3 separate regions of the Homo sapiens genome follow, and regions 1 and 3 are each linked to region 2. Evidence: fine-mapped expression QTL. A gene starts in region 2. Each other region holds a variant in brackets. All regions are shown on one strand. Distances are between the middles of the regions. Region 1 overlaps ANXA2R-OT1 (ANXA2R overlapping transcript 1). Region 2 holds the start of NIM1K (NIM1 serine/threonine protein kinase). Region 3 overlaps NIM1K (NIM1 serine/threonine protein kinase).

Evidence for each region. PIP is the estimated chance that this variant, and not a neighbour inherited with it, causes the effect. A credible set is the group of variants that fine-mapping cannot tell apart.
Region 1: its variant is the best candidate, but not a certain one, in a credible set for the expression of NIM1K in lymphoblastoid cells (TwinsUK, PIP 0.63).
Region 3: its variant is the best candidate, but not a certain one, in a credible set for the expression of NIM1K in lung (TOPMed, PIP 0.64).

What each region holds. Positions count from the first base shown.
Region 1 is chr5:43,053,054-43,055,897 of GRCh38, reverse strand. The region is part of intron 2 of ANXA2R-OT1 (ANXA2R overlapping transcript 1); the gene reads left to right. Among named protein-coding and RNA genes, the nearest start is that of ANXA2R-AS1, 12 kb to the right of the region's middle. The variant C/G (reference allele first, on the strand shown) is at 1,242.
Region 2 is chr5:43,190,797-43,193,296 of GRCh38, reverse strand. It overlaps NIM1K (NIM1 serine/threonine protein kinase), which reads right to left and starts at 1,072. Exons shown (of 4, transcript NM_153361.4): 1 at 886-1,072. RefSeq lists an enhancer at 47-756 and a silencer at 1,092-1,231.
Region 3 is chr5:43,243,377-43,246,220 of GRCh38, reverse strand. NIM1K (NIM1 serine/threonine protein kinase) reads right to left here. Exons shown (of 4, transcript NM_153361.4): 2 at 154-1,139. The coding sequence starts at 445. Among named protein-coding and RNA genes, the nearest start is that of NIM1K, 53 kb to the right of the region's middle. The variant T/C (reference allele first, on the strand shown) is at 1,477.

The sequences.
Region 1 (2,844 bases), 140 kb after region 2:
ACGTTTGCTGAGGAGTGCTTTACTTCCAACTATGTGGTCAATTTTGGAATAAGTGCAGTGTGGTGCTGAGAAGAATGTATATATTCTGTTGATTTGGGGTGGAGAGTTCTGTAGATGTCTATTAGGTCCACTTGGTGCAGAGCTGAGTTCAAGTCCTGGATATCCTTGTTAACTTTCTGTCTTGTTGATCTGTCTAATGTTGAGAGTGGAGTGTTAAAGTCTCCCATTATTATTGTGTGGGAGTCTAAGTCTCTTTGTAGGTCTCTAAGGGCTTGCTTTATGAATCTGGGTGCTCCTGTATTGGGTGCATATATATTTAAGATAGTTAGCTCTTCTTGTTGAATTGATCCCTTTACCATTATGTAATGGCCTTCTTTGTCTCTTTTGTCTCTTTTGATCTTTGTTGGTTTAAAATCTGTTTTATCAGAGAGTGGGTTTGCAACCCCTGCTTTTTTTGTTTTCCATTTGCTTGGTAGATCTTCCTCCATCTCTTTATTTTGAGCCTATGTGTGTCTCTGCAGGTGAGATGGGTCTCCTGAATACAGCACACTGATGGGTCTTGACTCTTTATCCAATTTGCCAGTCTGTGTCTTTTAATTGGGGCATTTAGCCCATTTACATTTAAGGTTAGTATTGTTACGTGTGAACTTGATCTTGTCATTATGATGTTAGCTGGTTATTTTGCTTGTTAGTTGATGCAGTTTCTTCCTAGCACCAATGGTCTTTACAATTTGGCATGTTTTGCAGTGGCTGGTACCGGTTGTTCCTTTAGTGCTTCCTTCAGGAGCTCTTGTAAGGCAGGCCTGGTGGTGACAAAATCTCTCAGCACTTGCTTGTCTGTAAAGGATTTTATGTTTCCTTCACTTATGAAGCTTAGTTTGGCTGGATATGAAATTCTGGGTTGAAAATTCTTTAAGAATGTTGAATATTGGCCCCCACTCTCTTCTGGCTTGTAGAGTTTCTGCTGAGAGAGCCACCGTTAGTCTGATGGGCTTCCTTTTGTGGGTAACCTGACCTCTCTCTGGCTGCCCTTAACCTTTTTTTCCTTCATTTCAACCTTGGTGAATCTGACGATTATGTGTCTTGGGGTTGCTCTTCTTGAGGAGTATCTTTGTGGCATTCTCTGCATTTCCTAAATTTGAATGTTGACCTGCCTTGCTAGGTTGGGGAAGTTCTCCTGGATAATATCCTGAAGAGTGTTTTCCAACTTGGTTCCATTCTCCCTGTCACTTTCAGGTACA[C/G]CAATCAAATGTAGATTTGGCCCTTTCACATAGTCCCATATTTCTTGGAGGCTTTGTTCATTTCTTTTTACTCTTTTTTCCTCTAACTTCTCACTTCATTTCATTCTTTTGATCTTCAATCACTGATACGCTTTCTTCCACTTGATCAAATCGGCTACTGAAGCTTGTGCATGCATCACGTAGTACTTGTGCCATGGTTTTCAGCTCCATCAGGTCATTTAAGGTCTTCTCTATGCTGTTTATTCCAGTTAGCCATTCGTCTAATCTTTTTTCAAGGTTTTTAGCTTCTTTGCGATGAGTTTGAACATCCTCCTTTAGCTCGGAGAAGTTTGTTATTACCGATCTTCTGAAGCCTACTTCTGTCACCTCGTCAAAGTTATTCTCTGTCCAGCTTTGTTCCGTTGATGGCGAGGAGCTGTGATTCTTTGGAGGAGAAGAAATGCTCTGATTTTAGAATTTTCAGCTTTTCTGCTCTGGTTTCTCCCCATCTTTGTGGTTTTATCTACCTTTGGTCTTTGATGATGGTAACCTACAGATGGGGTTTGGTGTGGATGTCCTTTTTGTTGGTGTTGATACTATTCCTTTCTGTTTGTTAGTTTTCCTCCTAACAGTCAGAACCCTCAGCTGCAGGTCTGTTGGAGTTTGCTGGAGGTCCACTCCAGACCTTATTTGCCTGGGTATCACCAGTGGAGGCTGCAGAACAGCAAATATTGCAGAATAGCAAATGTTGCTTCCTGATCCTTCCTCTGGAAGCTTCGTCTCAGAGGGGCACCCGGCTGTATGAGGTGTCAGTTGGCCCCTACTGGGAGGTGTCTCCCAGTTAGGCTACTCGGGGGCCAGGGACCCACTTAAGGAGGCAGTCTGTCCGTTCTCAGATCTCAAACTCCATGCTGGGAGAACAACTGCTCTCTTCAAAGCTCAGTTGGAAATGCAGAAATCACCTGTCTTCTGTGTTGCTCACGCTGGGAGCTTTAGACTGGAGCTGTTCCTATTCAGCCATCTTCGAACGATCTCAGCATACACTTATTTTTCAAGTGAGTGTAGCTCTTCTGTGGTTTCAGCCATTGGCCCCAGAGTGTGGGTCTCAACAACATTTTTGTCCCCTTTAAACTTCAGAAATGACTCTAGCCTATGTAAGCCCAGCATGGCAGCCTGAATGCACTGTACTTCATATGTGCACAGAACTGGGGACATTGGCAGTGGTGGCTCAGTGCAGTGAAGTTGTCCATTGCCCAATCCCAGCTTACTTTAGGCTTAAGTCTGGTGGCATGTGGGGCTCTGGACATGCTGCCTTCAAGACAGCTCTTCCAAAGATGATGAATGGGGCTCCATATTTTAGCCTCCAGATCAGGCCAAGCTACGTGGCTGGTCTAGGAAAGGGAGTAAATGATTCTGTCCAGTACAGACTGTGCTTTTATAGTATGTTCTGTTATATACAGAATGGCAGACACCAAAGTCCAAATAGTTGGGAGATGATCACTAATTCATCTGGAAAAATTTCTTCAGGACCTGATAGGATTAAGGTGAAAATTGTAGGCACAATTGAAAGTCAGCAGGGTTGTTATGATTGAATCAGGCAAGAAAAGAAGTGAGGGAAATTCCA
Region 2 (2,500 bases):
GAGGGAAGGAGGGAAGGAAAAAACAGAAAGGAAAGAAGTGCTATAGCAGAATCTTTGCTGCCCATGTTATCTATTGCCTTGACTTCTCCATCTGCCAAGATGTGTCAAGCACGCAGAAGCTGGCTGGAATCGATATTTTAAAGACCCGGTTGCGATCTTTTCCTGGTCGTATCAAGGAGTCCTGGAGCTTCTAATATTCCTGGAGGGATATCCAGGAAGAGGAAAAGAGGCTCTTCCTTACTTCGTGCGGTCTTCCAAAAGAAGCACCTTTCGCTGGGGAGAGTCGCGGCGTGGGGTGCAATGGAAGGTTTTGTTCTCCTGGGCCACATGCGTTAGATGTCAGTTCTCTCCACCAGCAGCACCGGCCGGCGCGCGTGGGGAGATCACGCCGGTCTTCTGCCCTTGTAACAAACGCTCCAGATTTGGTCTGGTGCCTTAGGGCTCTGGTCCAGCGCACCCGCTGTGCGCAACGCTAGGCGCTAAGCTGCGCTCCTCGGCTCACGTGTGGACGCGCACGCAGACACGAGTGTCCACACCATACAGAGACATGGGTGCACACACGCGCGCACATAGACATGGGCGCCGCACATGACACGGGCACCACACATGACACGGGCACACACGCGCGAGCACGCTCTCGCCCTGGCTCTAATGCCCCCTCCTCTCGCTTGCGGATCGGCCTGGGCAGGTGTGGGGGTACGCCCCAGAAAGCGCCTAACCTTCTTCTGACCCCACTTCGCAGACACCCCGTGGCAGGGCTTCCTTTCTTCCTTGGGTCGCGGGGAGGAGAGGCGCCTCCTCCTCAGCCACCCAGGTCTGCAGCCTAGCAGAGGAAGGGTGGCGGGGTGGGGGTGCTGGCGGCGAGTCCCCCAGCCCCTCGCTTACCTTCGTGGCGAGGCCAGCTCTTGGGCTTCGCTGCACGGCGCCAGGCTAGGCGCGCTGGGTTGTTGCCTCTGGAGCAGGAGCGGTCGGTGTGTGGATGTCCCGAGGTGAGGGCGCCGCTGTCGCGCTTGAGGCTCCCGGAGCTGTCAGGGGCGGCCGACCTGACCGGCAGCGGCCCAGGGCAAACCCCGCCCTCCGGCCTAGGCCGGCTCCGCAGCGGGGACCGAGACGCCCCACAGCGTTTCCTGAAGGACCAATCCGGAGCGAGGGGCTGGCGTGGGGAAGGAGGGACGGGGGGCCTGTAGTGCACCCGGACGCCGGCCTGGACCTTGTAAGCTGGTTTCTATGGCAGCCAGGAGGGAGGGGCGAGAGGGAGGGGACGCGCGGCGCAGGGACACCCAGTGCAGTCGCTCGGGGAGGGGGGTGATTGGGCCTGACGCAAAGAGGACCCCTTCTAGAGTCTGGATGGGAGCAGCTACACGGCCGAAAGCGGGCTGACACAGCTCCCACCGACGTACGCCTCGTGCCGAGCGGTTCCAGCGCTTCAGCAAGGGTTTCCATGTCCTTGGGAAACCGTGACCCAGTAATCCTCCCAACAGAAAGGGGGTTTCCAGCAAACCACCGTGACAGCTCCTCCGGGTGAGTCGGGCAGGGTTTAGGTTCTGCAGAAAGAAGTGCTAATGTCACCCTCTGTCTGGATTCCTGGCATACATCGGTTCCCCTGGTGCCACTTTGTCACTGGCTCCCTAATCTCCTGCTAGGGAGATACTCTCGGCTGTGACCCTCAGATGCCAAAGATTATTTTTCTAGTTTATAAACTAGAAATACCGTCACTGGATTGAACGTAGAGTTGGAAATGGGATTCGCAAAATACTAAATAAAACATACCGGTTATTTACTGAAGTTTAAGCCCTTCCTTTTACAGAGAGAGAAAAAAAAAACTGAGTTCAGAGGGGTCAGTTAACTTAGCAAGGGTCACACAACTGATTAATGGCAGAGCCAGGACTAGACACCCTAAGTCATAGTTCTGCGAGCATTCTTTCTACTTCCTCCTGCTCTCCATCCTGTATTGATTGCCAGAGCAATATTTACAAGAGCAAAACTGTTAAGTAGCAACATAACCCATGTCTACAATTCTTTTATGGTAGAAACTAGGGAACCCCAAAATTCCTTTTTTGCTATTTGCCAGGCATTGTAATAAACTCTTTTACAAAGAGTAACTGATTAAATCCTCATGATAATCTATGGGTTAGGTACTGTTACTGTCATCCTTGTTTTGATAGATGAAGAAACTGAAGCCCAGAGAGGTTACAGGATTTGATCGAGATCACACAACTGTTGAATGCTGGCTCTGGGACTCTAACCCAGTTTGTTTGACTCCAGAGTTGGTGTTCTTCATTACTTTGTCTCTGCTGCCTGTTTGTGTGATGATTAAAGGGGTCAGGAACGGGAAGGGCAAGAAATAAAAACCTTGGACAGCTCCGTGCACTGACGGTTGAGATTGGAAAGAAAATTGAAAGAACCTGAAACAACTGCTTCCTTGGCTTCTGAGAGTGGTCATCTATTTATGTAGAACAAGGGTTCTCTCGAGAAAATTTGTTTTTAAAGAGACATCCCC
Region 3 (2,844 bases), 53 kb before region 2:
GAAGACCACAGAAGGCGGCTGGCACAGGATGTGGGCCTTGCAGGGGCTCTGCTGAGGTCACTTTACTTGCTTCCTTGGCCCTGGCCACCTAACCCCTTTCCTACACTAGGTCCCAATACTGCCAGGGATGACCCTTGGGAAGTCGGATCCTACCTTTGGTTAGGGAGTGAATCCCAAGCTTCACTTGGGAGAAGTTTCCACTTCCGATTTCCCCTCGAATTCGGTAGAAGCCTATCCGTTTCCCCAGCGTGATCTCCCTCACCACCTTCTCATCCTGGGACATGTCCTGTGTCAGTTTCTCGAAGGGCGTCAGCTGGCGGGGCTGTCCCTCCTCACCCTCCTTGCTACTCTCGGTCTGACAGCCACTTTCTACACTGTCGCGCCGATCCCACCGGGCATAGTGGGGGTTCACCAGGCCACCTCCATTCATATACACTGCAGTCATCGTCCACGGGGGCTCACGTCTCCATCTCAGCGAAGAGGCAGGTTGTGCAGGAGCAGAAGAGGCTCAGAGGGTGGGAGATGCCAACTGAGGACAGCAGGTGCCCAGGGTTCAAAAGAGTTTTCCTGAGAGCTGAGCAGCCTCCCTCTCGGCTTTAGTGAGAGGAAGGCAGTGAACGTGGTAGCTGAGTCTGCCCAGCCCAGCCAGGAGCTGCTCGCCTCACTCAAGACATTTCCCACCTTCCCTCACGTTGAACTTGCAGGCTCTAGCTGTACAATTAGGCACATGTTACATACCCACTGGCCTGATGGGACTCCAGGAACTTTCTGGCCAGACGTGGAGTCTGATGCTTTGTGGTAGGTGGCTGTGCCCCAGGACAAAGGCTTCTGTTTGCTATTTCCCTTGATGGCCAGAGAATCTTGCACTCTGGTGCGTAAATGCCCCTGGGAGGCCCCCACGTCCCTGCTGCGGGATCTCATCTCTGACCTTCATTTCATGCTTCTCTTTCTGTCAAGCTGCAGGGCGCTGGAGACCTAATAATCTGGACCCCAGGAAAGAAGAAACTTGCAAATAAGCCTTCTGGTCACACAGGCAGCCAAAGAAGGATTTAATCCCTGCAATGTCACTTTAGCCGGCCTTTATTTAGATGAACCTTCCTCTAAGCCGTGAGCTGTCTCGAAAATTTGGCTGGTTCAACCTAAGAATAGAGAGTAAGAAATTTATTAGCCTATGCTAATGTACTGTACAGGATTTGTAATGAATGTGCAACTGCTTTGTAAGCATTGATCTAAAAGTACCCCACAAATTTATGACTCATATCAGTAGTAGATGCTTGATTACATGTGATCTAGTAAGAAGAAAAGAGCATATACACACACCTCTCAACCTACATTTTAGAAAAGCCCCTAAGGTCCGTACATATTTCTAGCAAAACAATTTTTCTATTTCTTAAAGTTTAAGAAAATATGCACATTGCCTTGTGTTGCTTTAAAACCAAATTTTAAAAATAATATGATAGCAAAGATGAAAGATTC[T/C]GGATTACTAATGGTTTTCAAAATTTCTCATATTTATTCAAATAATAATATTTTATCTCCTTTACTACTTCATGTTCTTGCACAACTTGTCCTATACTAGTTGCTTCCACTCTTTCTTCCTATGTCATTTTATGACAAAGGCTGATTTTTCCTCCTACATTCACTTTTTGAATTTTTCTGAGCAGGTGTCAGTTTCTAGGCCCAGCACCTTATTTTGAAGATGTGGAAAAGGAGGGTTTACAGCATTGCCAGTGACAAGAAATGCTGCCCACCTACGATGTCATCGGGATGTTTTTTTTCTGCACTCTCCAGCAGGAAATACTCTCTTCCTCTCTGAATTCCCACAGCACTTCGTGCATTTTCCAAAATGTCCCATCTCAGTGAAGGTGGGAACTGGTTTTGACTTGTAGGTATGTCCTGCTCACCTCCTCTCTCCTTCAAAATGGAGTATAAGTTCTTACATATAGAAAGTGTTTACTAAGTAAATATGTGTTAAACTTGATTTTTGGACTTGAGCATTCCAAACCAAAAATTTGACTGAAAACATGAGAGACTGCCTTGGAAGTATGGATTTCCAACTCTGCTCAATAATATCACATTATTACAATTAAGTATAAATAAGGCTTCCTAAGCTTATACTTAAGGTTAAGTATGGGGTTGCCAAATAAACATAAATAAGGGAAGTAAAGAGGAGGTTGATGCCCAGTACTGCTCCTATTTCTGGATAGAGAGAAAGGAATCTGGAAGAAGGATGATGAACACAGGCTTAAAAGGGACCAGGTATCAGTAACTAAGCACATCTCTAGGTTAGAGACCAATTAGGATGTTTTTTAAAAACATTTTTAAGATAAAGTTCCCCTTAGCAGGGTGTGGTGTTGTACCTCCTAGCAGGGTGTGGTGGTGTACCCCTTAGCAGGGTGTGCACCTGTAGTCTCAGCTACACCTACAGACTGAGGTGGGAGGATGGCTTGAGCCCAGGAAGTGGAGGTTGCAGTGAGCTGAGATCAAGCCACTGTACTCCAGCCTGGGTGACAATGCCGGACCCTGTCTCAAAAAAACAAAGCAAAGCAAACAAACAAAAAAGGTAAAGGTCCTTAATTAGAGTGAAGAAAATCTAAGTCACTGATTCTTCTTCCTTTTCTTTACCCACCTCTACCTCCCAAAGTGCTGGAATTACAGGTGTGAACCACTGTACTCAGCCAAAATCACTGATTCTTAATCATCCTGGGCTCACAGACTCCTTTGAGATGCTAACAAAACCTATGACTTTATCCCCAGGAGGAAAAAAAAAAAAACCCTCACCCATACAATTTGCATCCAATTTTAAGATGACATTCTGAAACCCATCAGGTTAAGAATCTCTGTGAA